2 separate regions of the Homo sapiens genome follow, and region 1 is linked to region 2. Evidence: fine-mapped expression QTL. A gene starts in region 2. The other region holds a variant in brackets. All regions are shown on one strand. Distances are from middle to middle.

Region 1 (14,845 bases), 79 kb before region 2:
TGAAACTTGAGTTAACTCCTCTGACAACCATATGCAAAGTATCTGAGAAACGTGAAATTACTATAAAAGACTTCTGAGCAGCCCAATTAGAGGTAAAAACACAAAAACTCATGCACCAAGCTCCTTTGGGCTTCATGCAGAGCCAGTTCACTCTCATTTTATATACATAATTCCAACAAGCTTGACTATCTGGTTTCCTTGTCTATAGCTGATTTAAAACAGTAAATACTATGGAAGAGGAGAGATACTGTCAAAATTAACTGTTGACAGCAGTAGGAAATGAAAGAGGGAGGACACAGAAAAATATACATGAAACCTCAAACCCAGGTATTCTGGGACCATCTAACTTAGAGCAAACAGCCCTACCCCTCAAGGATATTGTTGTACAATGAAGTGTTTAAAGATGATAATTACTATTATCATAATCATTAGAATATGACGGCCAGGCATGGTGGCTCATGTCTATAATCCTAGCACCTGGGGAGGCCGAAGCAGGAGGATCACTTGAGCTTAAGAGTTCAAGACCAGCCTGGGCAACATAGTGAGGACTTATCTCTACAAAAAATAACAAAAATCAGCCAGGCATGGTGGTGTGTGCCCATAGTCCTAGCTACTTGGGAGGCTGAAGTAAGCCAAAGTTGCACAACTGCACTCCAGCCTGGGCAACAGAGTGAGACCCTGCTAAAAAAAAAAAAAAACAAAAAATAGCACGTGATTATCCTAATCATCATCATTATTAGCAAGTGCCTGGTATATAGATTTCAATGAATTATGTACAAGATACATTTTAGAAATTTTTCCATCAAAAAAGGGTAAAGTTTTAGTTTTTAGAGGGAGCTTTGGTCATATGGAAAAATCTGATATTCATTCCCCACTGACAGTGGATAATTGTGCCTTTGCTGTTTTTCTTTTCACTAATTCTAAACTTCTTTTAATTTCCTCATATTCTGAGACTAAGTAATTAAATACATGATCAAGTCTTTGTGATTTGATTTACTTATAGCAGGAGTTATGGACTTGGGATTCAGGGGCAGATTTCAGCAGTTATGTGAACCCCCTTAAAGTATTCTATGTGTGGCCGGGCTTGGTGGCTCATGCCTGTAATCCCATCACTTTGGGAAGCCAAGGCGGGCGGATCACCTGAGGTAAAGAGTTCAAGACCAGCCTGACCAACATGGAGAAACCCCATCTCTATTAAAAATACAAAATTAGTTGGGATTGGTGGCGCATGCCTGTAATCCCAGCTACTCGGGAGGGTGAGGCAGGAGAATCACTTGAACCCGGGAGGCGGAGGTTTCGGTGAGCCGAGATTGCGCCATTGCACTCCAGCCTGGGCCGCAAGAGCGAAACTCCGTCTCAAAAAAAAAAAAAAAAAAAGTATTCTATGTGTTTCCATGATAAGTTTACAATTCTATGCAAAATTCCACATTTGAGTGATCTGCGATTTTTCTAGGGAGATGGTCTGTGGCTTTCATTAGATTATTCAAAGGGACCCCAATACCAAGGAGATTAAGAATCCCTGACTCACATCATTATTTCCTCCTGGCATTATCTCTCCAGACTGAAGAAGCAGCACCAGCTTTGATTTTAAAATTCAGGCTCTTCACGCCTGTAATCCCAGCACTTTGGGAGGCCAAGGTGGGCGGATCACCTGAGGTCAGGAGTTCAAGACCAGCCTGGCCAACATGGTGAAACACTGTCTCTACTGAAAATACAAAAATTAGCCAGGCATGGTGGCGTGTGCCTGTAATCCCAGCTAGTTGGGAGGCTGAGACAGGAGAATCGTTCAAACCCAGGAGGGGGAGGTTGCAGTGAGCCCAGATCGCACCACTGCACTCCGGCCTGGGCAACAAGAGCAAAACCCCATCTCAAAATAAATAAATAAATAAAGATAAAATTCAGGTTCCTTGGGACAGTTACTTAAGTCTCTCTGCCCCTCTGGTTCCATATATGAAAAATGAGGACACCAAAACTGCTGGGTTGTTAGGTTAAATAAGAAAACTTACATGAAATCACCTAAGTGCCCTCGTAGATCCTCATATGTTAGCTACCACTACCATTATTATAAAGAGACCTAATCATATACAGGTGACTGCTAATAAAACCTGTTTCAAGATTTGGTGATGAAAACTGAAAGTCAAACTTCAAGTCTTGACACAACATAGGTTTACACAATGGAAAGACAATGCTATTTAGTTCTTAATCCCTACTGCTACGATCTTTTATTAGGGTAATACTTTAAAGGAATAATGGCCAGTTTCTCTGAGAAGCCTTTTCCTCCTGAGTCTTTAAAAGATAAAAGACCTGTAGCTCAAATCCTATTCCTACCTCTTACTGATTATGTGTCCTTAACTAAATCATTTCTGTTTGCTTACTTACATAAGGGAGGGGCTAATAAGACTTCCCTCATTGGGTTCTTGGGAACATTAAATGAGTTGCAGCATGTAAAATGTTCGCAGTGCCTGACAAGTAGTAGATACTCAGTAGGTGGTAGCTACTATCATCATTATCATCATCTTATTAGGAAGTGCCTGGTATATAGTAAGGTGGTTGTCAATCAATGCTAATCTTTTCTTCCATCCCATCCCATCTGGCCAGCCCTGAACTCTTTCTTACCTGAAGCACGCTATGGTTCATCTGGAACTGCAGGATGGCCTCGAAGAGGTTCCAAAATGTATACTCTGGCCACAGAACGGGTTGGAACACCAGGCAGGAGTGAGAGGTCTGGGAAAGGTAGGGAGGAGAGTATGATTTAGTAACATGTTGCTGGGCCGCATCCCTGGTCAGTCCTCCAGGGAAAAAGCAGGCTAAGCAGGACCCAGAAGCCCAGAGATGACAATGTTACAGGCATCCTGAGCTGTAGCTGCAGCTGCTGCTGGCCCTGATTCATTCACTAGTAGGGGGAGGCGTCACTTGAGGCAGCCAGATCACCTGCCTGTGGTAAAGCAGAACTAAAACGAGACTAGATCAACATTTCCACCAGGATTTTTCTAAGAGCCAATTTTAGGACTATGAAATAACATCTGGATTATGTTATTGGCTCTTGGCCCTTAGAGGGCATCTGGAAGACATACTGTCTGATAAAGGTCACCAATGAACAAATGGTAGCTGCCATTGTTATTTTTAAGTACCAGCAGCAGGGCACAGTGGTTGAGAGCATGAGCTCTGGAGCCAGACTGCCTGGCTTTGAATTTTGGCTCCAACCATTTACCATTTATTTGAGCAGGGGTAATTTCACCTGGCCTGAGATTCCTCAAATGTAAAACTGGATAATAGGAATACCTAATTTTCAGGGTACTGTTTAGATTAAATGAGATAACATATGCATAGCAAAGAGCCAGGTGTACTTTAATAATAATCACTGATGAAGAATCCCCTTTGGAACACTCTTGACAGCCACTGCCTGATATCTCTAGTGGTGAGGAATTCAGTACCTCATGGGGGATAACTAGTTGTCCGATAGCCTGTTTGGCTTTTTATGCTAAACCAATGTCACCTTCCCTACAACTTCTACTAAGGTCCCAGGTATTTTTTCTGGAACAAGTTTGTTTCTTCTTCAAAGTGACATTCTTTCAAGTATTTCAAGGCTAGATTAGAGCTGCCTGTTATCAGTTCCCAAAGTTGTAATGACTTGTTCAGAGTTTGTCTTTGCTAGCAAACTATAAGTTTCAAGACAGTAGGGATCATTTCTGACTCACTCACTGCCATATTTCCAGCATAAAGAAGGAACTCAACACTTTTTTCCAAGGGAATACATTGTCACTTATTTCCCTTTTGCAGACCACTATCCTTTCCTCATTTTTTGTAAGACATGAGATTCCTTGCTTTCCAGTTTGGCCTCTTCCAGTAAGTCCTCAAGTTTGTCAATGTAACTAATTCTGTACACTGAGTAACTGACTCTGTAGTCTCTTAAAATTCAGCCCATCAGTAAACTTCCCAAACGTGATCTGAGCAGCACAGTGGGCCACAGAACCAATAGGTGCACATTGTACTTATTTCTTTTCTTTTTTTTTTTTTTTTTTTGCGACAGAGTCTCACTCTGTTGCCCAGGCTGGAGTGCAGTGGCACGATCTCGCCTCACTGCAACCTCTGCCTCCTAGGTTCAAGTGATTCTCCCACCTCATTCACCTAAGTAGCTGGGACTACAGGCACCTGCCACCATGCCAGGCTAATTTCTGTATTTTTAGTAGAGACAGGGGTTCACCATGTTGGCTGGACTGGTCTCAAACTCCTGACCTCAAGTGATCTGCCTGCCTCAGCCTCCCAAAGTGCTAGGATTACAGGCGTGAGCCACCACGCCCTGCGTTAGCTCACTTTTAAGATTGTGGTCCATTAAAATTTCTGGAGCTTTATCATGTGAGCTGCTTCCAAATGGAGTCTCTCCCAGAACAAGGACTTCCCCTAGTTATGTGCTCTCCAGGGACCAAGTTAACAGGGGATAGAGACTTGAGTGTTTGCATATTGTTTACCATGCTTGCATAGGTATGGCCCTTTATCCTGAAGGGGAGGGACTAGTAACTGCAAGGCAAGCTTCCAACCCAGAGGGGCTAGGGTCCCTGGCAGGTTACCAAGGCAAGAGCTTACGCTCAGGGATGCAAGACAGAAGTCCCATTCCTTGAAAAGCGGCACAATGAAGTTTTCACTATAGTTGGATTCGCAAAGCCAGCGACAGATGAGGAATGGACATCAAATATTATGAGACACAGCCTAGAGATGCTTCTCCAGATTTTAGCTTTCCCCAGAAGTACTCTGGCCCCAGCCTGTTTGGGAGTGGGGATGGACCACTCTGATCCATTCTGTGGATACAGTTGGTTTCCCCATGACACAAACATAATAGTACTTGGAAATGACCTACCTGCCATAGCAAGAAGTCACTCAGCCGCACTTCTCCAGAAGTCCGTATCAAGATGTCAGGATGAGGAGAGCGGTTGGTATAGAGGCACTTATCAAGCAGAGACTCAGAGATATCACTAAGATGAGCAAGAAGAGACAAAGAGAGGCACACATCCTGTAGTATTCTCTTTCTGTAGTGTTCTCATGGTGAACTTCCATATATAGGCTTCTCAGTTTATACAATACCATCAAATACACTAGCCAATACTACACAGAAGGCCCTCAAAAAATGTTTGCTAAATTAATGAATGAATTTAAATCTTCACAACTACATAAGGTATTTCTTTTTTTTTTTTTTTTTTAGAGAATACAATGTAAAATTCTTTTCTCTTTTTTATTTTTTGCCTTTTTTGACATGTTCTGATACATAAGGTATTTATTTATTTATTTATTTATTTGAGATAGAGTCTCACACTGTTCCCCAGGCTGGAGTGCAGTGGCACGATCTCGGCTCACTGCAAACTCTGCCTCCCAGGTTCATGCCATTCTGCCTCAGCCTCCCGAGTAGCTGGGACTACAGGTGCCCGCCACCACACCCTGCTAATTTGTTTTTTTTTTTTTTTGTATTTTTAGTAGAGACAGGGTTTCACCATGTTAGCCAGGATGGACTCGATCTCCTGACCTCGTGATCCGCCCCCCCCTCGGCCTCTGAAAGTGCTGGGATTACAGGCATGAGCCACCATGCTCAGCAGATACATAAGGTATTTCTATCCTCATTTTATAGATAAGGAAACTGAGGCTCAAAGATGAATAATTTGCTGAAAGTCATTTAGCCTCAGGCCTAAAACCAGATGCACCCACAAAAATATCTGTTGTCTTTTGCTAAAAACATCTTGTTTTTTAAAATACATACATACATCCTATGGCCCAGTATTTGATGAAATACTATGCAACTGCATTCTAAAAATAAAGATAAATCTAAATGCACTGATTTGGAAAGATGTCCAAAATCTAATGTTAAATGTAAAAGGCAAGTTTCAGAGAATATATAGTATAAAACATACACACACATTCAAACATTCACACGTGCATATAAGTATACATAAAGAACAAAGTCTAAAAAGATACATCATACTATTAACAGTGGATTGGATAAGAAGTAAGGAAGAAAAGACTATTTCTTTTTACTTTATGTACTTCTGTTATTGTTTGAATTTATGTAAATAACTTTTTTTGGCCAGGCGTGGTGACTCATGCCTGTAATCCCAGTACTTTGGGAGGCTGAGGCAGGCAGATCACCTGCGATCAGGAGTTTGAGACCAGCCTGGCCAACAAGGTGAAACCCCATCTCTACCAAAAGTACAAAAATTAGCTGGGTGTGGTGCCGCATGCCTGTAGTCCCAGCTACTTGGGAGGCTGAAGCAGGAGAATCGCTTGAACCCAGGAGGTGGAGGTTACAGTAAGCCCAGATTATGCCACTGAACTCCAGCCTGAGTGACAGAGCGAGGCTCTGTCTCAAAACAAAAAAAAACAGAAAACATATTTTATTTTTTTTCCAGACAGGGTCTCCCTCTGTTGCCCAGACTGGAGTGCAGTGGTGTGATCTCAGCTCACTGCAACCTCCACCTTCCATGCTCAAGCAATCCTCCTACCTCAGCTTCCCAAGTAGCTAGGACCACAGGTGTGCAACACCATGCTCAGCTAATTTATTTTTAAAATCTTATTTAAGTCATATGGATCCTGAAACATTGCAAAAATTCCACATTACACCGGATTTTAAATAAACAGCAATATGATCAGTTCTCCTGTGTTTGATAAGAGCTACTTTCCCAAGCACAGAGATGGTCAGAAAGGAGATAGAATTGAAGAAAACTGGTGAGTGGAAGCATTTATCTTAAGTAAAACTATCCTGTCCACAGAAAGAGGGTATTTGCATGGCTGGTGTCTGTTGGCTCCAAGAATGCTGTTTACCTGTCCTACCAACTACCCAGAAGCAGAATTCAGAATGTCCAGGTAGTTAGAGTTACATCTTGGAAAGGGTCCAGAAGACAAAAATTTCTTGGTGGGAACATGTTTCTGGACGCATGGTCAGGAAAGCAGAAAGATCTGGGCTGAGTGTTCAAAACCAGACTCTACACTTACTAGTTGTGTGTCTTTAGGCAAGTTATTCATCTTTTTTTTGGAGATGGAGTCTTGCGCTGTCACCCAGGCTGGAGTGCAGTGGCGCAATCTTGGCTCCCGCAACCTCCACCTCTCGGGTTCAAGTGATTCTCTTGCCTCAGCCTCCCAAGTAGCTGGGACTACAGGCAGCCACCACCACACCCGGCTAATTTTTGTACTTTGAGTAAAGACGGGGTTTTACCATGTTGGCCAGGCTGGTCTTGAATTCCTGAGCTCAAGTGATCTGCCTGCCTCGGCCTCCCAAAGTGCTGGGATTACAGGTGTGAGCCACTGCACCCAGCCAAGTTGCTCATCTCTCTCAGTCCTTTAAGGCAAACCACAGAGAGAGCTTTCTTTTCCGTATCATCATCACAGAGGAAACAGTATTCACTTATAATTGAGCAATAAGAAGGGCTCTGGTTCAGATTTCTCTGGTAATCTGACAATCTTGTCTTGGCAGCATGGTCTTAATTCTCCAAGTTATGTGAGACTCTGTACAATCCATATAATTTCTCATTCTCTTATCTTTAAAATGGGCCCATTTGCTCTTTCCCTAAGCGGCCTGAGGTAATCTGTGAAAATGGTTCACTATTCACTTAACCCGGAGAACCTCATGATATCATGCAAATCAAGAGGTTCCAATCTTCGTGTTTACTTTAAGAATATTCGTGAAACTGCCCAGGCCATCAAGGGTATGCATATACGAAAAGCCATGAAGTACCTGAAAGATGTCACTTTACAGAAACAGTGCGTACCATTCCGACGTTACAATGGTGGAGCTGGCAGGTGTGCCCAGGCCAAGCAGTGGGGCTGGACACAAGGTCAGTGGCCCAAAAAGAGTGCTGAATTTTTGCTGCACATGCTTAAAAATGCAGAGAGTAATGCTGAACTTAAGGGTTTAAATGTAGATTCTCTGGTCATTGAGCATATCCAAGTGAACAAAGCACCTAAGATGTGCCGCTGGACCTACAGAGCTCATGGTTGGATTAACCCATCCATGAGCTCTCCCTGCCACATTGAGATGATCCTTACTGAAAAGGAACAGATTGTTCCTAAACCAGAAGAGGAGGTTGCCCAGAAGAAAATGATATCCCAAAGAAACTGAAGAAACAAAAACTTATGGCACAGGAGTAAATTCAGCATTAAAATAAATGTAATTAAAAGGGAAAAAAAAAAACAGGGCCCATTTGTCCTATCCACCTTATAGGTTATCATGAGGGTCAAATCAAATGAAATAATAGATTTGAGTGCACTTTGGGAACTATAAAGTGCTATATAAAGAATAATAATAAAAAATTATTTTCAGTCCCACCAACTTGCAGTGTGACTTCAGAGACTCAGTCTCTCTGAGTTTACAATTTATCTGCAAAGAGTTTCTTCTACCTACTTTAGGCAGTAGGTATGCAGTAAGAATTCTGCAGTGGGCAGAATTCTTAATGGAAAAAGCTGATATTGTGCCAGTGCATTCCAGCCTGAGTGATACAGCAGACTGTGTCTCAAAAAAACAAAGGGGTTGGCCAGGCGCGGTGGCTCACGCCTGTAATCCCAGCACTTTGGGAGGCCGAGGCGGGCAGATCATGAGGTCAGGAGGTCGAGACCATCCTGGCTAACACGATGAAACCCTGTCTCTACTAAAAATACAAAAAATTAGCCGGGCGTGGTGGTGGGCGCCTGTAGTCCCAGCTACTCGGGAGGCTGAGGCAGGAGAATGGCGTGAACCCGGGAGGCGGAGCTTGTAGTGAGCCGAGATTGCACCACTGCACTCCAGCCTGGGTGACAGAGCAAGACTCCATCTCAAAAACAAAAAAAAAGGGGTTAACTCTAGGGTGGAAAGATGAAACTGACAAAATCAAAATGGAACATCTGTAGACTTTGGCCAACAAAAATCCATCACTAAATGGAATGGTGAGTTAAAGCTGTCTACGTGAAGACTTTTCGGAAATGATTTACATTAAATAACGGTAAAATATCAGTTTTTACCTATGAGAATAGGTTTATTTTTTTGTTTTATTTTTTGAGACAGGATCTGGCTGTTACCCAGACTGGAGTGCAGTGATGTGATCTTGGCTCACTGCAGCCTCAGCCTCCTGGGCTCAAGCCATCCTTCCACCTCAGCCTCCCAAGTAGCTGTGACTATAGGTGCATGCCACCACACTCAGGTAATTTTTGTACTTTTAGAGACGAGATTTTACCATTTTGCCCAGGCTGGTCTCGAACTTATGAGCTCAAGCGATCCAACCTGCCTCAGCCACCTAAAGTGCTGGATTACAGGTATGAGCCACTGCACCTGGTCAGAACAGTTTACATTTAAAAAATCTTGGCAAGAATAAGGTGAAATGAGCACTTTCAAACTCAGATCCTGAGGAAACAATAAAAAATGCAGGCAAGTTCAGTCAAAGATTTAATTGTGGCATTATTTGTAATAATGAAATATTAAACTGCCTATATACCCAACAAATAGAAGACTGGTTAAAGAAATTAACACAAGATATATTTTACAGCCATTATAAATAATGATATGAAGAATTATTAAAAACACGGGTCATGAAAAGTACTCGTAACATTGAATGATAAAAGCATGATTCAGAGTGTAAACTATTCATTATGTGATTTCATGTGTTATAAATATTTATGTCAAAAGTGAGTGTGTGTGTGTGTGTGTGTGTGTGTGTGTTTCAGACAGGGTTTCACTCTGTTGTTCAGGCTAGAGAGCAATGGCGCAACCATAGCTCATTGCAGCCTCGACCTGCTAGGCTCAAGTAATCCTCCTCACTCAGCCTCCCAAGTAGCTACAGGTGTGTGCCAGCACACCCAGCTAACTGTTTTATTTTTGTAGAGACAGGGTCTTGCCGTGTTGCCAGGGCTGGTCTCAAACTCCAGGGCTCAAGCGATTTTCCTGCCTCAGCCTCCCAAAGTCCTGGGATTACAGGCATAAGTCACCATGTCCATCTAATTTTTTTCTTTTTTACTGCCTTATTGTTCATTTCAGCTTTGCTATGAGGAAGTCAATATGCCACAGTGAATGAGAACACAGGCTCTGAAGCCAGGTTGAAATCTTGGCCCCCAGGTTTGCCAACTATGTGAACTTGCACAAGTTACTTTTCCTCTCCATGTCTCAGTATTCTCATCTTTAAAATGGGCATAAAAACAGTATCTACCTTATAGGGTCTAAGGATAAATGTATGTGGAATACTTAATGCTTGGAACAGAGTAAATGCTCAGTAAGTGTTAGCAATTACTATTAACACTATTGTTTTATAAGAAAGACAGAGGCCTACAGGGAATCAAGTAGCCCGTTCAAGGTAACACGGTGGAATAGAATTTATTAACTATCCTTTGGTCTCAATCTACTTCCTTCTTCTATAATTTCCAGACTCACAAAACAATCTATTAATTTAACTGCTAAAAAAATACATATATACCTCGGTCAGGTGCCGTGGTTCAAACCTGTAATCCCAGCACTTTGGGAGGCCAAGGCAGGAGGATCACTTGAGCCCAGGAGTTTGAGACCAGCCTGGACAACATGGCAAGACCCTGTCTCTACAAAGTCAAAAAATTAGCCAGATGTGGTAGCAGTATCTGTGGTCCCAGATACTCAGGAAGCTGAGGTGGAAGGATCTCTTGAGCCCAGGAGGTCTAGGCTGCAGTGAGCCATGTTCATACCACTGCACTTCAGCCTCAGCAACAGAGTGAAACCCTGTCTCAAAAACAAAACGAAACAGGCCAGGTGCTATGGCTCACACCTATAATCCCAGGACTTTGGGAGGCCAAGGTGGGCAGATCACTTGAGGTCAGGAGTTCGAGATCAGCCTGGTCAACATGGTGAAATCCCATCTCTACTAAATATACAAAAAATAGCC[G/A]GGTGTGATCCCAGCACTTTGGGAGGCCGAGGCAGGCAGATCACGAGGTCAGGAGATCGAGACCATCCTGGCTAACATGGTGAAACCCGTCTCTACTAAAAATATAAAAAAATTAGCCAGGCGGGGTGGCAGGCGCCTGTAGTCCCAGTTACTCAGGAGGCTGAGGCAGGAGAATGGCGTGAACCCGGGAGGCAGAGGTTGTAGTGAGCTGAGATTGTGCCACTGCACTCCAGCCTGGGCGACAGAGCGAGACTCTGTCTCAAAAAAAAAAAAAAAGAAAAAAAAATAGCCGGGTGTGGTGGTGTGCACCTATAATCCTGGCTACTCAGGAGGCTGAAGCACGAAAACTGCTTGAACCTATAAGGTGGAGGTTGCAGTGAGTTGAGAGCGTGCCACTGCACTTCACCCTGGGCAACAGAGCAAGACTCCATCTCAGAAAAACAAAAAAACAAAAATACACACACACACACACACACACACACACACACACACACACACACACATCTACATACATACCCTGGAAGAAAGAAAAATGAGGAGTTGGATGGTGATAGTGAGAAATCAGGAAAATTCCAGCTATTAGAAGCATAGGACCTAATTGTAATTAACGCACTGACTTTGTTATAAATGCAGGTTTGTCTAAATTCGAATAATATAAAGTGTAACGCCTCAGGCCCTGATTAGCCCAGTCTGAGCACACCAAGCTTCAGGAGTTGGTGGGTTGAGACATTGGCCTCCTGACCCTGGTGATACTGCCCAACCCACACCCTGTCTGCATAACTAACCCCACAGAGGCAAGTTACTAAACCATGCAGGACAGAGAAGGATATGGAAAAACTTGCTGGACAAGAAGCAGGAGATAAGGTAGTGGTTACTGTAATGTGGTATGAGGGTAAAGCATGCTGGACTAGGAGTCAAGATCAGAGTCCTAGGCATAATGCATATTAGATCTGCTTGTCAAATGGCTTTCTTTCATTCTAGTGTCAACCCTTGTGCCTTAATATTTATTTCATACATACAAGAATATTTGAAACATATTCATTATAAAGCACAAAAATATAATGAACTACGAAAGTACCTCCAAACTAAGAATTTTATTGAAAACATGCTTCTATTTCTATACCCCTTTTCTGTCTCATCTTCCTGCCTGCTCTCTACCTCTGCTAACTCCACCAGTCTCTTAATTGTTTTAACAACAGCTGATTTTCACTCTACATCTTAATTGACCTCTCTACAGCATTTGACACCATTGTTTCCATGGGTGCCCTACCCCTTCCCAACTTGCACCAACAAACTCCCTCTTTTCTTGGCTTATGTAATGCTGGCTGCCCTGGTTTTCTTCCTGCTTTTCTGTGTTTTTGCTTATAAAGCTTATTCTCCTCTACCCAGCCAGTAAAGGGTAGAGTTCCTCAAAAATGCCATCTTAGGCTCTTTCTTCTTCTCACTCTACACTCCTTAACAGGCAGGGCTGAGTGGCTCACACCTGTAATCTCAGCATTTTGGGAGGCCAGGGCAAGAAGACCACTTGAGGCCAGGAGTTCAAGACCATCCTGGGCAACAAAGTCAGACCCTGTTTTTACAAAAAATAAATATAAAAAGTTAGCTGGGTAGGTGGTGCACGTCTGTAGTACTGGGTACTTGAGAGGCTCCTTTGAGACCAGGAGTTCCAAGCTTCAGTGAGCTTTGATTGCCCCACTGCACTCCAGCCCAGGAGACAGTGTGAGACCATCTCTAAATAGATAAATACACAGATAGACAGACAGACTCTCCTTAGCTTTCTCATCCCCTCTTTGCTCAAGTTAACCTATACACAGATGGCTTCCATACTGGCGACAGAGATAAACCCTGTCTGAACTGTTGACCTGACATCTCTGTCTGACTGTTGACCTGACTATACCAATCCCTCGCTGAACTGTTGACCTGACATCTCTGTTCAACATGTACAGGATATCCAAAACCAAACTGCTGACCCTTTTCAACTGGATTTTCTCTCAGGGTTACCTAGCATGGTGAAGGGCACCACTATCCACTGTAACGTAAGTCTAAAACCGCCGGGCGCGGTGGCTCACGCCTGTAATCCCAGCACTTTGGGAGGCCGAGGTGGGCGGATTACCTGAGGTGGGGAGTTTGAGACCAGCCTGGCCAACATAGTGAAACCCCGTCTCTACTAAAAATACAAAAATTAGCTGGGCATGGTGGCATGCCCCTGTAATCCCAGCTACTCAGGAGGCTGAGGCAGAAGAATCGCTTGAGCCCAGGAGGCGGAGGTTGCAGTGAGCCGAGATTGTACCATTGCATTCCAGCCTGGGCAAGAGTGAGACTCTGTCTCCAAAAAAAGAATTAGCTGAGCATGGTGGCACACACCTGTAGTCCCAGCTACTTGGAAGGCTGAAGTGGGAGGACTGCTTGGGCCCGGGAGGCACAGACTACAGTGGGCCGAGATCACACCACTGCACGCCAGCCTGGGCGATAGAGTGAGTCCCTGTCTCAAAATAAAAATAAAAATGGGCCAGGAGTGATGGCTCATGCCTGGAATCTCAGCACTTTGGGAGGCTGAGGCAGACAGATCACTTGAGGTTGGGAGTTCAAGACCAGCCTCGCCAACATGGTGAAACCCCGTCTCTACTAAAAAATACAAAAAATTAGCTGGGCACGGTGGTGGGCGCCTGTAATCCCAGCTACTTGGGAAGCTGAGGTGGAAGAATTGCTGGAACCTGGGAAGCGGAGGTTGCAGTGAGCCAAGATCTCGCCATTGCACTCCAGCCTGGAGACAGAGCGAGACTCCATCTCAAAAAAATAAATAAAATAAAAAATAAAAATAAATAAATAAAAATAAAATATTTGTTGAATGAATGAACTATGTGACAGAGAAATGTCACCCAGCTGTTAGGAAGGAGAGGCATTCATAAAATAGCCTCAAAAACTGTCTCCTCTCCTTTTTATCTAATTCTATTCTCACCAAGTAACTTTTTGATTTTTAATCTAGTTTCCTAGGTCAATCGAATCGGGAAGGGAACCAGAAAAATTCCTGCTTCCCAAGATCCCACATAATAGAGGTAAAGGATAAGAACCCTAAAATCAAACAGCTTTAGATATGAGTCCCAGCTCTGGCACTTACTAGTAGAGTGACCCTGGGCAAGTCACTTCAATGCTGAACTCAGTTTTCTCATCTACACAATGGACAACAGCCTTGAATCTCTCACACATAAGGTTAATGACTTAATGAAATACAGAACACAACACATCTCCTGGGTTATTTTTTGCTACTATTATTTTACTATTGCTGTTAGTTTACAAATATATTAAAAGTTACATAAATAATAACATGAGAGGGACCAAATATTTAAATGGCTTCAAAAGTCTCTCCACCTTTAATAATTAGGATTCCACTATGTTGACAATAATTAATAATTTTCTTTTTGAAAAATCCCTGAATCGGCTGGGCATGGTGACTCACGCCTGTAATCCCAGCACTTTGGGAGGCTGAGGCAGGCAGATCACGACGTCAGGAGTTCGAGACTAGCCTGGCCAATATGGTGAAACCTGTCTCGACTGAAAATACAAAAATTAGCTGGGCATGGTGGCATGCACCTGTAGTCCCAGCTGCTTGGGAGGCTGAGGCGGAAGAATTGCTTGAACCTGGGAGGTGGAGGTTGCAACTCCAGCCTGGGCAACAGAGTGAGACTTTGCCTCACCAAAAAAAAAAAAAAAAAAGAAAAGAAAAACACCTGAATCTTGTGTGGAACTAGAACATGAGAGACCTAAAGAACTCTAGCCCCAACAAACTGCATTCATGAAAAGTCATTCTTGGAAAAACACTACCAAAGGGCCAGGAGGGTATAATTTGTAAAGGAATAATAACATGGCTTTGTCATCTGCTTTGCTCTTTCTCTGGGGTTTCTTGGTGTGTGGTGAACTCTAGTTCTGAAGCAGGTTGTAATAAGCCAATCCTAATCTCTAAATTTGGGAGATCCCCTTAAATCTTTCCACAT
Region 2 (15,582 bases):
ATTTGGTTGTTTGTCTTTTATTATTGAGTTGCAAGAGTTATTTTTATATTCTGAATACAAGTTTCTTATCAGATATGATTTGAAAATATTTTATCTCATTCTGTGGGTTGTCTTTTCACATTCTTTTTCAAAAAATAATTTATTTAGGGGAAATTAATATAACTTAAAAGCAACCATTTTAGGGCTGGGCAAGGTGGTTCATGCCTGCAATCCCAGCACTTTGGGAGACCAAGGCAGGAGGATTGCTTGAGCTCAGGAGTTTAAGATCAGCCTGGGTAACATAGCAAGACATTGTTTCTACTAAAAATAAAAAAAGAAATTACCCTGGTGTGGTGGTGCATGCCTACAGTCCCAGCTACTCAGGAGGCTGAGGTGGGAGAATTGCTTGAGCCCAGGAGGTTGAGGCTGCAGGCAGCCATGATTGTGCCACCGCACTCCAGCCTGGGTGACAAAGGGAGACCCCATCTCAAAAAAAAAAAAAACAAAAACAAAATTAGCCAGGCACGGTGGCTCAAGCCTATAATCCCAGCACTTTGGGAGACTGAGATGGGTGGATCACCTGAGGTCAGGAGTTCGAGACCAGCCTGACCAACATGCAGAAACCCTGTCTTTACTAAAAATACAAAATTAGCTGGGCGTGGTGGCGCTTGCCTGTAATCCCAGCTACTTGGGAGGCTGAGGCGGGAGAATCGCTGAACCCAGGAGGCGGAGGTTCCTGTGAGCCGAGATCGCGCCATTGCACTCCAGCCTGGGCAACAAGAATGAAACTCTATCTCAAAAAAAAAAAAAAAAAAAAAGAATCATACAATTGCATACAATTGTGACTTTTTGTGTGTCTGGTTTATTTGCTTTAGCATAATGTTTTGGAGTTTCTCCACGTTGCAGCATGTATCAATACTTTATTCCTGTTTATGGATGAATATTCCACTGTATGTATGCACTACAATTTATCCATTCATCTGTTGATGGACATATGGGCTGTTTCTACCTTTTGGGCTGTTTCAAATAATGTTGCTATGAACACGAATGCATATGTGCTTGTTTGAGTACCTGTTTCCAATTTTGGGTATATGCTAGAAGTGGAATATGCTAATTCTTTACCTTTGAGGCACCACCAAACTGTTTTGCCATAGCACTTGGACCATTTTGCATTTCCACCAACAATGTATGAGAGTTCCAATTTCTCTACATCCTTGCCAACAACACTTGCTTTTTCTTTTTTTTCAAGACAGAGTCTCTGTTGCCCAGTGCAGTGATGCAATCTCAGCTCACTGCAACCTCTGCCTCCTGGGTTCAAGCAATTCTCCTGCCTCAGCCTCCCAAGTAGCTGGTATTACAGGCGCATGCCACCACACCCAGCTAATTTTTTGTATGTTTAGCAGAGACGGGGTTTCACCGTGTTGGCCAGGCTGGTCTCGAACTCCTGACCTCGTGATCCACCTGCCTTGGCCTCCCAAAGTTCTAGGATTACAGGGGTGAGCCACCGCACCCGGCCACCAACAATGCTTATTTTCCTTTATTTTATTTATTTATTTATTTTATTTATTTGGTTTTTTTTGAGACAAAGTCTCGCTCAGTGAGCCACCATGCCTAGCCTATTTTATTTTTATTTTAAAAAATATATATACAGCTATCCTACACTTCCTTTGATTGAATCTTATGAAGCACAAAGGCTTTTAATTTTGGTGAAATCCAATTTTCCTACTTTATTTTTTGTTGCTTGTGCTTTTTGTGTTGTGTCTAATAAAGCTTTGTCTAACCCAAGGTCTGAAAGGTTTGCTCCCATATTTTCTCCTAAGAGTTTTGGAGTTTTAGCTCTTACATTTAGGTATACGATGCATTTTGAGTTTAGTTTTGTATATGATAAGAGAAACCGACACAACTTTTTTTTTTTTTTTTTTTTTTTTTTTTTTGTGATAGGGTCTTGCTTTGTTGCCCAGGCTAGAGTGCAGTGGCCCAACCACAGCTCACTGCAGCCTTGACCTCCCAGGCCCAAGTGATCCTCCCATCTCAGCTTCCCAAATAGCTGGGAGTACAGACGCACACCACCACGCCCGGCTAATTTTTGTATTTTTTTTTGTAGAGAAGAGGTTTTGCCATGTTATCCAGGCTGGTCTCAAACTCCTGAGCTCAAGCGAACCTTCTGCCTCAGCCTCCCAAAGTGCTGGAATTATAGGCATGAGCCACACTGCACCCAGCCAGGGATACAACTCTTTTTGTATGTAGGTATTCTGTTTTCTTAGCACCATTTGTTGGTTTTGTATCCTGCAACCTTGCATTAGTTTCAATAGGTTTCTGTGGATTCCTCAGGATTTTCTTTCTTTCTTTATGTTTTTTTGAGATGGAGTTTCACTCTTGTTGCTCAGGCTGGAGTGTAATGGCGTGATCTCGGCTCACTGCAACCTCTGCCTCCTGGGTTCAAGTAATTCTTCTGCCTCAGCCTCCCAAGTAGTTGGGATTACAGTCACCCGCCACCGTGCCCGGTAAATATTTGTATTTTTATTGCCATGTTGGCCAGGCTGGTCTTGAACTCCTGACCTCAGGTGATCCACCTGCCTCAGCCTCCCAAAGTGCTGGGATTACAGGCATGAGCCACCGAGCCGGGCCTCCTCAGGATTTTCTATGTACAAGATTATGTCCTCTGTATATACAAACAGTTTTACCTCTTAATTTCTAATCTGGGTGCCTTTTTTTTTCTTTTTTTTTTTTCTTTCTTTTTTTTTTTTTTTTTGCCTAGTAGCCGTGGCTAGAACCTTTAGGACAGTGTTGAATAGAAGTGGTAAGGGTGGATATGGTCTCATTCCTGATCTGAAGAGGAAAACAACTCACCTCTCATCCTAAATTCAATCTTAGCTGTGTGCTTTTTGTAGAAGCCTTTTATCAGGGTGAGGAAGTTCCCTATTCCCAGTTTGGTGAGTCGTCTTTTTTTTTTTTTTTGAAATAGAGTTTCACTCTCGTTATCCTGGCTGGAGTGCAATGGCACGATCTCAGCTCACCCCGCAACCTCCTCCTCCCGGGTTCAAACGATTTTCCTGCCTCAGCCTCCCAAGTAGCTGGGATTACAGGCATGCACCACCATGCCCAGCTAATTTTGTATTTTTAGTAGTGACAGGGTTTCTCCATGTTGGTCAGGCAGGTCTTGAACTCCCGACCTCAGGTGATCTACCGACCTTGACCTCCCAAAGTCCTGGGATTACAGGCGTGAGCCACTGCACCTGGCCTGGTGAGTGTATTTTATCCCAAAAAGGAGTGGTGGATTTCGTCAAATCGTTTTCCTGCACCTATTGAGATGATCATGTCCTTTATTCCACTGCCATAGTATATTATAGTAATTGATTTTTGCATGTTAAACCATTTCTGGGATAAAACTCACTCACTCATGATGTATAACCCTTTTTATATGTTGTTGAGTTCTGCTTGCTTCTATTTTGTTGTGGATTTTTGTATTTGTGCTCACAAGAGATATTAGTCTGTAGTTTTCTTATGATCTTTGTTTTTTTTTTTAATTTTTAAATTTTTTTTGTAGAGATGGGTTTCACCGTGTTGCCCAGGCTGGTCTTGAACTCCTGGGCTCAAGCAATCTTCCTGCCTCGGCCTCCCAAAGTGCTGGGATTACAGGTATGATCCACTGCAGCAAGCCTGTCATTGTTTTTTGATATCAGGGTAATATTGGTCTCATAGGATGAGTTGGGAAATGTTCTCTCCTCTTCTGTTTTTTGGAAGAGTTTGTGAAGATTTGACATTATTTAAGTGTTTAGTGAAAACAGTCAAGGCCATGGCTTTGGAGACAGCTAGAAATGTGGAAAGGTCTTAGGCTCTGGGACCTTGGGCAGAGGCTGCTGAATCTGACACACAGACCTATTCTGATTGGCATACACATTACTTTAAGACATTGGAGAGCCAGGCGCAGTGGCTCACGCCTGTAATCCCAGCACTTTGGGAAGCCGAGGCGGGTGGATCACCTGAGGTCAGGAGTTTGAGACCAGCCTGGCCAACATGGCAAAACCCCGTCTCTACTAAAAATAGAAAAATTGGCCGGGCGTGGTGGCACGTGCCTGTCTTCCCAGCTACTGGGGAGGCTGAGGCAGAAGAATCTCTTGAACCCGGGAGGCGGAGACCATCAAGCTTCCGATGATCATGCAACAAAGGCTCCAGCCAGTTCCAGGTGAAGACACCACCCCTGGCCATCAAGAAGCTACCCTGTCTCCACTAGACAGTACAGGGTGAGAGTTCCATGATCTCCAATAGGGAGATCATGCCACTGCACTCCAGCCTGGGTGACAGAGCAAGACTCTGTCTCAAAAAAAAAAAAAAAAAAAAAAAAAGACATTGGAGCCATTCTTTTAAAAAATATGGAGATTTCATGTACAACTCCTGATTTTCAGATTCTCTGGAAAAGTTGGAAGACTGGCAACACTGGCCCCTGATTATTCTGAGTAGTGGCTGATCTTTAAGAATGGACCATGCTCTCTGGTTTGCCTCAGTCCCAACCCTTCCCTGTTGGAAGCTTGAAACCAAGACTGAGTGTCAGGAAACAATTTTATCATACTTATTCTTGGATCACTTTATGTTAACTACATGGCCACTGTAGGCATTTGAGTTGATACTACCTGGTATACCCTTGCTGAGTCTTGTCTGCTCATCCATAAAATGGAGACATTAAAAATTCCTACCTTGGAGAGTTTTTTTTTTTTTTTTTTTTTTTTTTTGAGATAAAGTTTCACTCTGTTGCCCAGGCTGGAGTGCAGTGGCAGGCACAATCATGGCTCACTACAGCCTTGACCTCCAGGGCTCAAGCAATTCTCCTGCCTCAGCCTCCCAGGTAGCTGGAACTACAGGCCCATGCCATCATGCCTAGTTATTTTTTGTAGGGAAGGGGGTCTTGCTATGTTGCCCGGGCTGGTCTCAAACTCCTGGGCTCAAGCTATCCTCCCACCTTGGCCTCTCAAATTGTTTGGACTACAGGTGTGAGCCGCCATGCCTGGCCAACTTGGAGAATTTTGAGGACGATTAAATAAGATGATCATAAAGAGATTTGGCATGTAGGAGGCATTGAGTAAATTTACCTCCTGCTTTTTCCTGGCTGCATAGTATTCTGATGCATGGATGTACATAATATGTAGCTTTCCTCTAATGGTAGACATATAGGTGGACTTTAATTTTGCCCCGTTCCACACCAGGCTGGAAAGGACATACATGTACATGGTGGGCAGTTTTGCACAGTGGCTCAGATTACATTAGCTCTGCTGGATTTGAATCCAAGCAAGGTGACCTCTTGTCTCCTATTCTCTTGGAATGGTTGAGGATAAGTGGCATGACCTTGGATATCATTTGAAGATGCATCTGCAATTTTACCCACAGAAGGATTGGAAGGTCACAGATGGGTGCAGGGGAAGACGCAAGAGTGTCTGTAGGCCCCTTCTGCAAATGTAAGAGCAGGCACGCCTTAACTCAAGATCTCTTCCCCACCTTGGGGTGTGAAGCCAAGGGCCAACTCAAATGCATCTGACAGACTGACAGCTGGGCTGTCTGGGGAGATAAGCATGTGGGTGTCAGGCAGAGGGAGGGAGGTGTCAACCACAGAGCAGAGCCAGGCAAGAGCACTGTCAGCCCCACCCTCAGCTCTGCCTGTGGAGGCACACCCTACAGCTGCTTAACCTCTAAGCCAGTGACGTCCCAGATCCCTTCCTGACCTGGGGTCCTTACCTGGTGCCTCTCAAAAGTGTCCATGTGACAGAGGTCCTGGACCCATGTGCTGAGCTGACTGGGAAGTCAGCTGGCTGGCCTCAAGGTTGGAGGTGGCAATGGATATGGGTTGAAGAAGTTTTTAAGGTTTTCAGGGAGGAAGTGGGGCTTCTGGCTGTGGTTCCGTTGTCTCCCTTTCTTGGTGCATGAGTCAGCCAACCCCACCCCCAGTTCTACTTTGCTCCTCCAGCCCCTACCCTCCTAATAATAAGCTCAGATGTACATTACTTTCCATTTCACAACATCCAGCAAGCTTCTTGATAGCCGGAATGTAATTCCAAGGTCTGAGTCATATTTCTATGGGCTGTATTCCCAGAAAATAGTCCAATGCCTGACACATAGCTGGTAATTAATAAATATGTGAATTACTTTGGGAGGCTGTTTGAGGGCAGGAGTTTGAGACTAGCCTGGTCAGCACAGCCAGACCCTGTCTCTACCAAAATACAACAAGAAAGAAAGAAAGAAAGAAAGAAAGAAAGAAAGAAAGAAAGAAAGAAAGAAAGAAAGAAAGGAAGGAAGAAAGAAAAGGCAAATAAATATGTGAATGAATGACGTTCTTGCAGGGTACCAGATGCTAATTCTGCAGCTCGTTTCAAGATGGCCTCTGTTTGTCTTAATTTTTCTGGGAGCCCCTTCTACCAAACATATTTGTGGCACTTTTTACTTCTTCAAATGCCTGGAAAGTCTTCCCTAAGCTCTCCCTCACCTCTGGGACTTACAACCTCAACTTGGGTCATGTGTTTCTTTTAAAATTGTATATATTTAAGATCTACAACATGATGTTTTGATACACATATGCTCAGTAAAGTGATTACTACAGTCAAGCAATTTAACACATCCATCACCTCACAGTTACCTTTTGTGTGTGTGTGCGGTAAAAGTACCTAAAATTACTTTTAGCAAATGTCTACTATATAATATTACTAACTATAATCCTCATGCTGTATGTTACAGCTCTAGACTTATTCATTCTAAGTAACTGCAACTTTGTACCCTTTGACCTTCATCTCCCATTTCCCTTACACCCCAGGCCCCTGCCCCTGGTAAAGACCTTTCTACTCTCTGTTTCTATGCTTTCCACTTTGGGGTCATGTGGTGTTTTTTGGTTTTTTTTTTTTGAGACTGAGTTTTGCTCTTGTCTCCCAGGCTGGAGTGCAATGGCACGATCTCAGCTCACTGCAACCTCCGCCTCCTAGGTTCAAGCGATTCTCCTGCCTCAACCTCTCAAGTAGCTGGGATTACAGGCACCCACCACCATGCCCGGCTAATTTTCGTATTTTTAGTAGAGACAAAGTTTCACCATGTTGGCCAGGCTGGTCTTGAACTCCTGACCTCAGGTGATCCACCCGCCTCGGCCTCCCAAAGTGCTGGGATTACAGGCATGAGCCACGCCCAGCCAGGTCATCTGATCTTAAGTGAGTCATTTTCCTTATCTGAGTGTCAGTTTTCTTGCCTCTAAAATGGGAATAATGGCATTCATCTCCCAGAGTCACTCTGCTGATCCAGTGAGACAAAGCGTGTGGAATGGCTTTGCATGGTTCCTGGCATATAATGAGGGCTCCCATGCCAAGAGCTATTATTATTGTGGTGTGTGGATGGGGTAGGAGAAGACTGCATTGAATGAGAGCAATGATCCCCAACCAGGGAAGGGTCAATAAATAAAGCAAGAAAACTAAATGTAGTTAATCTCTCCAATTGTGCTGCCCAAATTTCGATCTTCCAAAATGGGTCAGGAATAACCATCAAAATTTTAACACTTTTAAGAAGCTGACTTGCAGATGCTTGCCTAACTAGGTAAAGGGTAATGTACAATATAGTCATCCACATTGGTCAAGTGCTTGCTTTGGGCCAGGCACCATCCTAAGGGCTTTACATGGATTATCTTGAGGAAACCTGGAAATAATTCTATGAGGCAAGTGCTATTATTATCTCCATTTGACAGATGAGGAAAGATGCACAGAGAGGTTAAGTGATTTGCCATAAGTTTACCCAGTTGGGATTAAATCCAGCAGAGCTCGTATTCTTAACCATTCCGCATACTGACTCTGTCTGGAGGTCTTTTCCAGCCTTGTGTAGAAAGGGGAAAATTGGATCCCACCCGTATGTCCACCAACAGGGGAAGGCTACATATTAAGCACAACCCTGCAATGGAACATTATATAGTCAGGAAAAAGCAGGAGGCAGATAGGTATGTTCAGGGCATGAAATGATGCCCACAATGGATTATTAGAAAACCCAGAAGAGACTGGGCATGGTGGCTCCCAAAGTGTAATCCAGCACTTTGGGAGGCCAAGGTGGGTGGATCACTTGAGGTCAGGAGTTTGAGACCAGCCTGGCCAATGTGGTGAAACCCCGTCTCTACTAAAAATACAAAAAAATTAACTGGGCTTGGTGGCGCATGCCTGTAGTCCCAGCTTGAACAGGAGAATTGCTTGAACCCAGGAGGCAGAGGTTGCTAGTGAGCCAAGATCACACCACTGTACTCCAACCTGGGAGGCAGAGTCAGATTCTGTCTCAAAAAAAAAAAAAAAGAAAAGAAAAGAAAAGAAAACCCGGAAGAGCAATGTGCATCAATATATTCCCATGTTTGTATAAAACACAATTTAGCCTTTCAGCCCCTATGCTCAGGCCCACTCCAACACTGTGGAGTGTACTTTATTTTCAATAAATCCCTTCATTTCTTCGTTGCTTTGTTTCTGCTTTTTGTCCAATTCTTTGTTCAAGATGCCAAGAACCTGGACACCCCCCACCAGTGACATATTTTGGCCAGCCAGCCCGGAGGAAGGGCCGCTCAGGGAAAGAGAGCCCAGAAACCTGGCATACCAGCAAAAGGAGGCCATCAAGCTTCAGATGATCATGCAACAAAGGCTCCAGCCAGTCCAGGTGAAGACACCACCCCTGGCCATCAAGAAGCTACCCTGCCTCCACTAGACAGAACAAGGTGAGGGTTCCATGATCCCCAATAAGTAGGGACTACGCCCCATGCCAGCATGAAGCAGTCCCAGGAAAAAGACCATCGGTCCCTCTGCCTCCCGTGAAGATTTACGGGGACCACAATCACATCTCTTAGCGGGGAGATGAGGCAGGAAAATAGGGGCTGGAGGCAGGAAACATAAGGCCAATTCACACTTCAGCTCTGACAGGAAATAGCTTCTCCCTGAGTACATGACATTGTAACTTTACTTCATTCTCTTCATTTACATAGGGCGTACCACAAGCAGAAGGTATTTAAACTCTCAAAAACTCTGTAATGGGGCCTTTGAGCCCCTATGCTCAGGCCTGCTCCCACACTGCAGAGTGTACTTTCATTTTCAATAAGTCACTTCATTCCTTAGGAAAAAAAAAAGCAATTAAAAAAATCAATTTACCTGTTTGTTGGTTCATAGAAAAATGTCTGGAAGGGTAAACACTAAACAATTCACATTGACCACTGGGAAATTGCGAAGGAGGAGGAGCTTCCATTTTTCGTTTTTACATTTTCTGTTGTTTGAAATGTTTACCACTAGTATGTATTATTTTGCAACTAACGAAAGGAAGAAGAAAGTGTGCAGTGAGCACCGGGAGCCCAAGGACCCAGCCCCTCCAGCTCTTGTCCCCTAATGTGGAGGCACCTCCTCTTCAGAGGCCTCCCGAATGTGCCCCTTGCACCTGGAGTCAGCTCCCTACTCCCCCTCTGTCCGCACTTCCCAAACCCACTCTGGTGATCATGGGCTTTCCTTGGCTTGGGTCTCTGGTCTGGGTCAAGGCATCTGCTCAGGTTCCTCAGTTAGAAGACCATGGTCCTCCCTCTGTGCTACCTCCCCAGGGCATGTGGGACAAAGTGACATCACATTTAGGCCTGTGACATCACAGGGCATGGATGACACAAGACAGATGATCTGGGAGATGACAGCAAGGAAGGGCTTGGCAGGCAGAGGCTTCTCCACGTGGGAACCTGAGGGAGTCTGTCCTCAGCCCACCTCCTGGGGCATTTCCTAGCCAAGCCAGGGAGCTTTCAGGATTGGAGACCTGGAAATCTCCAAGGCCATTTCCTTTTTTATTTTTTTCTAACAGAGAGGTTGTGCAAAGTGTTCTGAGAGCTGGGAGCAGAGTGTGATGCCAGGAGGGAGCACAGCTGGCAGATGGAAGCCAAAGGTGTGTGGGGAAGTGCCTTGGAGGGGAGGAAACTTCACTCGGTGCCCCTCACTTCCCTGTGATTCCCAGCAAGACAGCAGGGGAGGCGGGCTTGTGGCCTGGGGGTCTGAGAGGGCTCTTCCTTTTAGGGAGTAGAGTTTTGGTGAACTAAGCCCCTCCATTACGCTGAAGGATACTGAGGGGGCCACTGAGGAGTTGGGGGAAGGACTGGGAACAGCATGTGGGAAGAGAGAGCAAGAAAGAAAGAAATGAGGGGGTGGCTGTCGTAGTGGGGGAAGCTGACATGGCCAAGAGATGGCAGAGTCTGAGGTTTACCACTAAAGAGCTCTTGGCTACTTGTTGTGTGACTCTGGATGAGCTGCTAATAATAAAATCCACCACACAGGCTTATTGTGAAGACTAAATGAGATAAAGTTTATGAAGCCCCTAGCACAGTGCCAGACACAGCAAGAAAGCTGTTTGTAAAGGTGGCTATTTACTCTGTTCCTTGGACAATTCCAGCTGGAACCCTGTTACTTTATCTTCTATTCTGGGCATGTATAATGCAGAATTATCAGTTGTAAGCTACAAAAACCATTTCAGGAGGAGTTAAGCAGAAGGAATTTGTTTAAAAGATGTTAGAAAAGCTCGCAGGAGGTCTGAGAAGGCTGGAGAGCAAGGCTTGGAGAATAGGATGGATCAAGGGAGGCTGGAAGTAGACAGGACCATGGCCAAATATCACACCCCAGGACCAGCCCTGCACAGATTCTGCAGCCTCCCCTGAACCCCCTTCTTTCCTTCACTGCCCTGGAAGCCGGATGTGGTACCACAGCCTTTGTTGTAGAGAGGAGTTTCCACAGACCTGCCACCTCAGGACCAGTGGCTTTTTTTATTGTATTTTATTTTATTTTGAGATGGAGCCTCACTCTGTTGCCCAGCCTGGAGTGTAGCAGAGCCATCTCAGCTCACTGCAACCTCCGCCTCCCGGGTTCAAGCAATTCTCCTGCCTCAGTCTCCCAAGTAGCTGGAAATACAGGCACGTGCCACCACACTTGGCTAATTTTTGTATTTTTGTAGAGATGGGGTCCCACCATGTTGGCCAGGCTGGTCTTGAACTCCTGACCTCAAGTGATCTGCCCGCCTCGGCCTCCCAAAGTCCTGGGATTACAGGCGTGAGCCACTGCGCTCAGCCAGTGGCACTAGCTTCTGATCTGCTAGTCTACTGGGCTGCAGTGGAGATTAATGGCTGCTTGGGGCTTTTGTACCCTGGGCCAGACTCACGCACACCAGAATTTGTGTGAGGCCACAGGGGTTATGCCTCTTCTCATGCTCACAAGACTCGGCTTGGCAAGGAAATGTCCCAGGAGGTGGGCTAAGACAGACTCCCTCAGGTTCCCACATGGAGCAGCCTCTGCCTGCCAAGCCCTTCCTTGCTCTCGTCTCCCAGATCATCTGTCTTGTCAGCCTCCATGCCCTGTGATGTCACAGGCCTAAATGTGATGTCACTTTGTCCCACATGCCCTGGGGAGGTAGCACAAAGGGAGGACCATGGTCTTCTAACTGAGGAACCTGAGCAGATGCCTTGACCCAGACCAGAGACCCAAGCCAAGGAAAGCCCATGATCACCAGAGTAGGTTGGGAAGTGCGGATAGAGGGGAAGTAGTTTTTATTTTTTTCTAACAGAGAAGTTGTGCAAGGTGTTCTGAGAGTTGGGAGCAGAGTGTGATGCCAGGAGAGGGCAGAGCTGGCAGATGGAAGCCAAAGGTGTGCGGGTCACCCCTTCTGGGTGGGGACATCTGATCGACCTAGTCCATGTATGCCTGCATGAAGTGCTGGTGAGGGAGGTTGGAATTAAGTATTTGGCCATTTCGGCTTTTATAATGGGAGGTACCTTTTGCCTCCCTCAAGACTCATGTAGGGGAAAAGTTTCAGAGGCTGGGCGTCCAAAAAAACCTGACAGATGTCTACATGGAAAACCAAAATGAGTAGACAGAGGACCCTGTCCTTGAGATGCTCACAAACATGTTGGGATCAGTTATGTGGAGGATGAGTCACAGCCCTAGGGGCTGAGCTGGCAGAGAAACCCCAGGAACATGCCCCAGCCCATGGTGCACAGCCTGAGATGTCCCTGTATATTCTGGGACACCAGGGTGGCGTGGCTGGGGTGCAGATTGATGGCTGGTTGGGGCTTTTGCACCCTGGGCCAGACTCACGCACACCAGAATTTGTGTAAGGCCGCAGGGGTGATGCCTCTTCTCATGCTCACAAGAATAATGACATTGCTCAGGCTAAAAAGCCACTTTCTGGCCTATGAGGTCTCCCTTTTTGTATCTAGACATGTCTTTTCCTTATTTATTAACTTTTTTTAAGACAGGGTCTCGCTCTGTCACCCAGGCTGGAGTGCAGTGGCATGATCTCAGCTCACTGCAGTCTCGACCTCCCTGGCTCAAGTGATCCTCCCACCTCAGCCTCCTGAGTAGCTGGAACAACAGGCATGCGCTACCATGCCTGGCTAATTTTTGTATTTTTTGTAGAGATGGTGTTTCACCATGTTGCTCATGCTGGTCTTGAACTCCTGGGCTCAAGCAGTTGGCCCACCTCAGCCTCCCAAAGTGCTGGGATTACAGATGTGAGCCACCACACCTGGCCTAGTCATGCCTTACACCCATTTTGCTATGTCTATTTTTTTTTTTTTTAAAGAGACAGGGTCTTTCTCTGTCACCCAGGCTAGAGTGCAGTGGCAATATCCTAGTTCACTGCAGCCTTATATTCCTGGGCTCAAGTGATCCTCCTGCCTCAGCCTCCTGAGTAGCTGGGACCAGAGGTGCAAGTCACCATGCCCAGCTAAGTTTTGTATTTTTTGTAGAGATGAGGTCTTGCTTTGTTGCCCAGGCTGATCTCAAACTCCTGGGCTCAAGAGATGGGTCTGCCTTGGTCTCCTGAAGTGCTGGGATTACAGATGTGAGCCACTTCACCTGGCCATGTGCTTGAATTATCTTTTGCCTCTTGGGGCCTCTAGATTAGAGGATAGAACTTTCCAGGGTCAGGAGATCTGAGATGGGACTTGGAGGAGGAAAACGTGTTTGCTGTATCTCTGTGAGATCAGCTGCCTTCTCTGTCCTCTGTCTCATTCCATATCCTTCTATGTTGCCTGTTCTTGTCTCTGCCTGTTCCTGTCCCTACCTGTCACCATCACTGTCTCCCTGTCATCATCAATGCCTATCTTCATCTCAGCTTGGCTCCCCTCCACAGAAGGCTCCCCTGTTCAGCCTTTGAGCCCTACTCTGTCCTCCCGTCCAGCCATCTGGGTACTTTGAGAACAGAAATAACAGCCCGCCCCCCTCACACACACATCCTGAAATTCCAGTAGCCCCAGTTCACTGCAATCCACATCAGCAGGTTGTCCTCCAGAGTTGCCACAGGTAGGCAAAGCTGAGTGGATAGTGCCCCCTTGTCAGACCTTGCAGGGCCCCCAAGCCTGCCTGCCCCCACTTCCTATCTGTGGCAACTTCAAATGTAACACCTTCCTGCCATCTCTCACTCCCACTGGGGCCTCAGCCACAGGCAGCTGTGGCCTGGCTGCCCACCTCCTTCCTTCCCAGCCAGGAGCACTGCTGCAGCACCGAGTGGAGAGCCCCACAGCCAGCAGCCCTTCGGGGGTCCATGGTATTTGCTTTGAGACCTGAAGCAGCGTTGGGAGGAGTGAGGAAAGAGGGAAAGGAGAAGGGGTTTTAGAGGGCTGAGACACTGGAGTGAGGGTCTTAGGGTCTGAGGGGCATTTGGGATTCAAAGAGTGGTCCCTGAGGTGACGGGGAAGGGGTCTTGGGGCATTTGCTGGGCTGAAGTGTTCCCTGTGCTGTGTGGCCTCAGGTGGAAGATGGCAGAGAAGCCTGGTGCTGGATGAGCAGACAGCTGGGCACTCGCGTCTCTCTGTCAGGCCAGTCAGGGGCATCCGGGGGCTTGGTCCACTCATTCAGGCTTTATTCCTGGTGAGAGCGCTGAGCTGGGCAGCCTGGGTGACACGACACTGAGGTGTCCTCAGCTGTCCAGAAGAGCTATCTGGGTGAGCTAGGATGCAGGATTCCCCTTGGTGGGGGGCCTCTGGTTGGTAGAGTCAGGGACCCCTCTCAGCACAGAAGGGGGTGGCTTCTTTGTAGCCCTGAGGAATCTGGAATGTTCCCTCAGATCTCTGCACTTACTTGGAAGTAAGCTCCGTGAGGGCCTTCCTCTCCTCTCAGGAGAGCTCTGCTCTTCACTTCTGATTGGCTAATCTCCATTGATTGATTGATTGATTGATTGATTGAGACAGGGTCTTGCTCTATCCTCGCCCAGGCTAGAGTGTAGTGGTGTGATCTCAGCTCACTGCAGCCACAACCTTCCAGGCTCAAGCAATCTTCCCACCTCAGCCTCCCAAGTAGCTGGGACCACAGGCACAGGCTACTACACCCAGCTAATTTATTTATTTATTTTTGAACCGAGTCTCACTCTGTTGCTCAGACTGGAGTGCAGTGACATGATCTCGGCTACTGCAACCTCCGCCTCTTGGGTTCAAGCGATTCTCTTGCCTCAGCCTCCCTAGTAGCTGGGACTACAGGTGTGAGCCACCACACTCAGCTAATTTTTTTTTTTTGGAGACAAAGTCTTGCTCTGTCACCCAGGCTAGAATGCAGTGGTGCTATCTTGGCTCACTGCAACCTCTGCCTCCCGGGTTCAAGCGATTCTCCTGCCTCAGCCTCCTGAGTAGCTGGGATTACAGGCGTGCGCCACCACACCCGGCTAATTTATGTAGTTTTGGTAGAGACGAGGTTTCACCATGTTCGTCAGGCTGGTCTTGAACTCCCAACCTCAGGTGATCCGCCCGCTTCAGCCTCCCAAAGTGCTGGGATTACAGGCATGAGCCACCGCACCTGGTCTAATTTTAATTTTTGGATTTTTAGTAGAGATGGGGGTTTCACCATGTTAGCCAGGCTGGTCTCGAACTCCTGACCTCAGGTGATCCATCTGCCTGGGTCTCCCTTTTATTTTTTATTTTTTTATTTATTTTATTTTATTTTTAGAAGGAGTCTCATTCTGTTGCCCAGGCTTGAATGCAGTGGCACGATCTTGGCTCACTGCAACCTCCACCTCCCAGGTTCAAGTGATTCTTGTGCCTTGGCCTCCTGAGTAGCTGGGATTATAGGCATGCACCACCGTGACTGGCTAATTTTTGTATTTTTAGTAGAGACAGGGTTTCACCATGTTGCCGAGGTTAGTCTTGAACTCCTGACATCAGGTCATCCAACCGCCTTGGACTCCCAAAGTGCTGGGATTACAGGCCTGAGCCACCCCGCCCACCATATTTTTTATTTTGTAGAGATGGGGGTCTCACTATGTTGCCCAGGCTGGTCTAGAACTCCTGGCCTCAAAAGATCCTTCCTTCTCAGCCTCCCAAAGTGCTGGGATTACAGGCTTGAGCCACGGCACCTGGCCAATCTCTATTTAATCTTCCCACACCCACCAGGAGAGCATCACTGGCTTCTAAATGTCAACATTGAGAGAATCCTTACGCATCAACTAGACCAACCTTCCCATTTTGCGGATAGGGAAACTGAGTCCAGGAAGGGACATGAATAACTTGTGGTCATGCAGCATGTTAATGGGAGAGCCAGTCCTAGAACTCAGACTCCTATTTGGAGGACCTTCACAGCTTACCTCTAACTCACCTGTTTCCCAGCAGGTAATGGG

Direction of the effects. Positions count from the first base shown, and alleles are read on the strand shown. Sizes are in standard deviations (SD) of each study's normalised expression.
As copies of A replace G in region 1, the expression in pituitary of the gene that starts at base 11,407 in region 2 goes down (large effect, 0.84 SD a copy in GTEx).

What was found. PIP is the estimated chance that this variant, and not a neighbour inherited with it, causes the effect.
Region 1: its variant is the best candidate, but not a certain one, in a credible set for the expression of ZNF683 in pituitary (GTEx, PIP 0.77).

The regions. Positions count from the first base shown.
Region 1 is chr1:26,447,916-26,462,760 of GRCh38, reverse strand. It overlaps DHDDS (dehydrodolichyl diphosphate synthase subunit), which reads right to left. Exons shown (of 9, transcript NM_205861.3): 7 at 4,856-4,970; 8 at 2,617-2,724. It overlaps DHDDS-AS1 (DHDDS antisense RNA 1), which reads left to right. Exons shown (of 3, transcript NR_125953.1): 3 at 1-5. It also overlaps the pseudogene RPL17P9. Among named protein-coding and RNA genes, the nearest start is that of DHDDS-AS1, 12 kb to the left of the region's middle. The variant G/A (reference allele first, on the strand shown) is at 10,854.
Region 2 is chr1:26,368,575-26,384,156 of GRCh38, reverse strand. ZNF683 (zinc finger protein 683) reads left to right here and starts at 11,407. Exons shown (of 6, transcript NM_001114759.3): 1 at 11,407-11,488; 2 at 15,572-15,582. RefSeq lists an enhancer at 5,694-5,903 and a cis regulatory region at 5,226-6,119.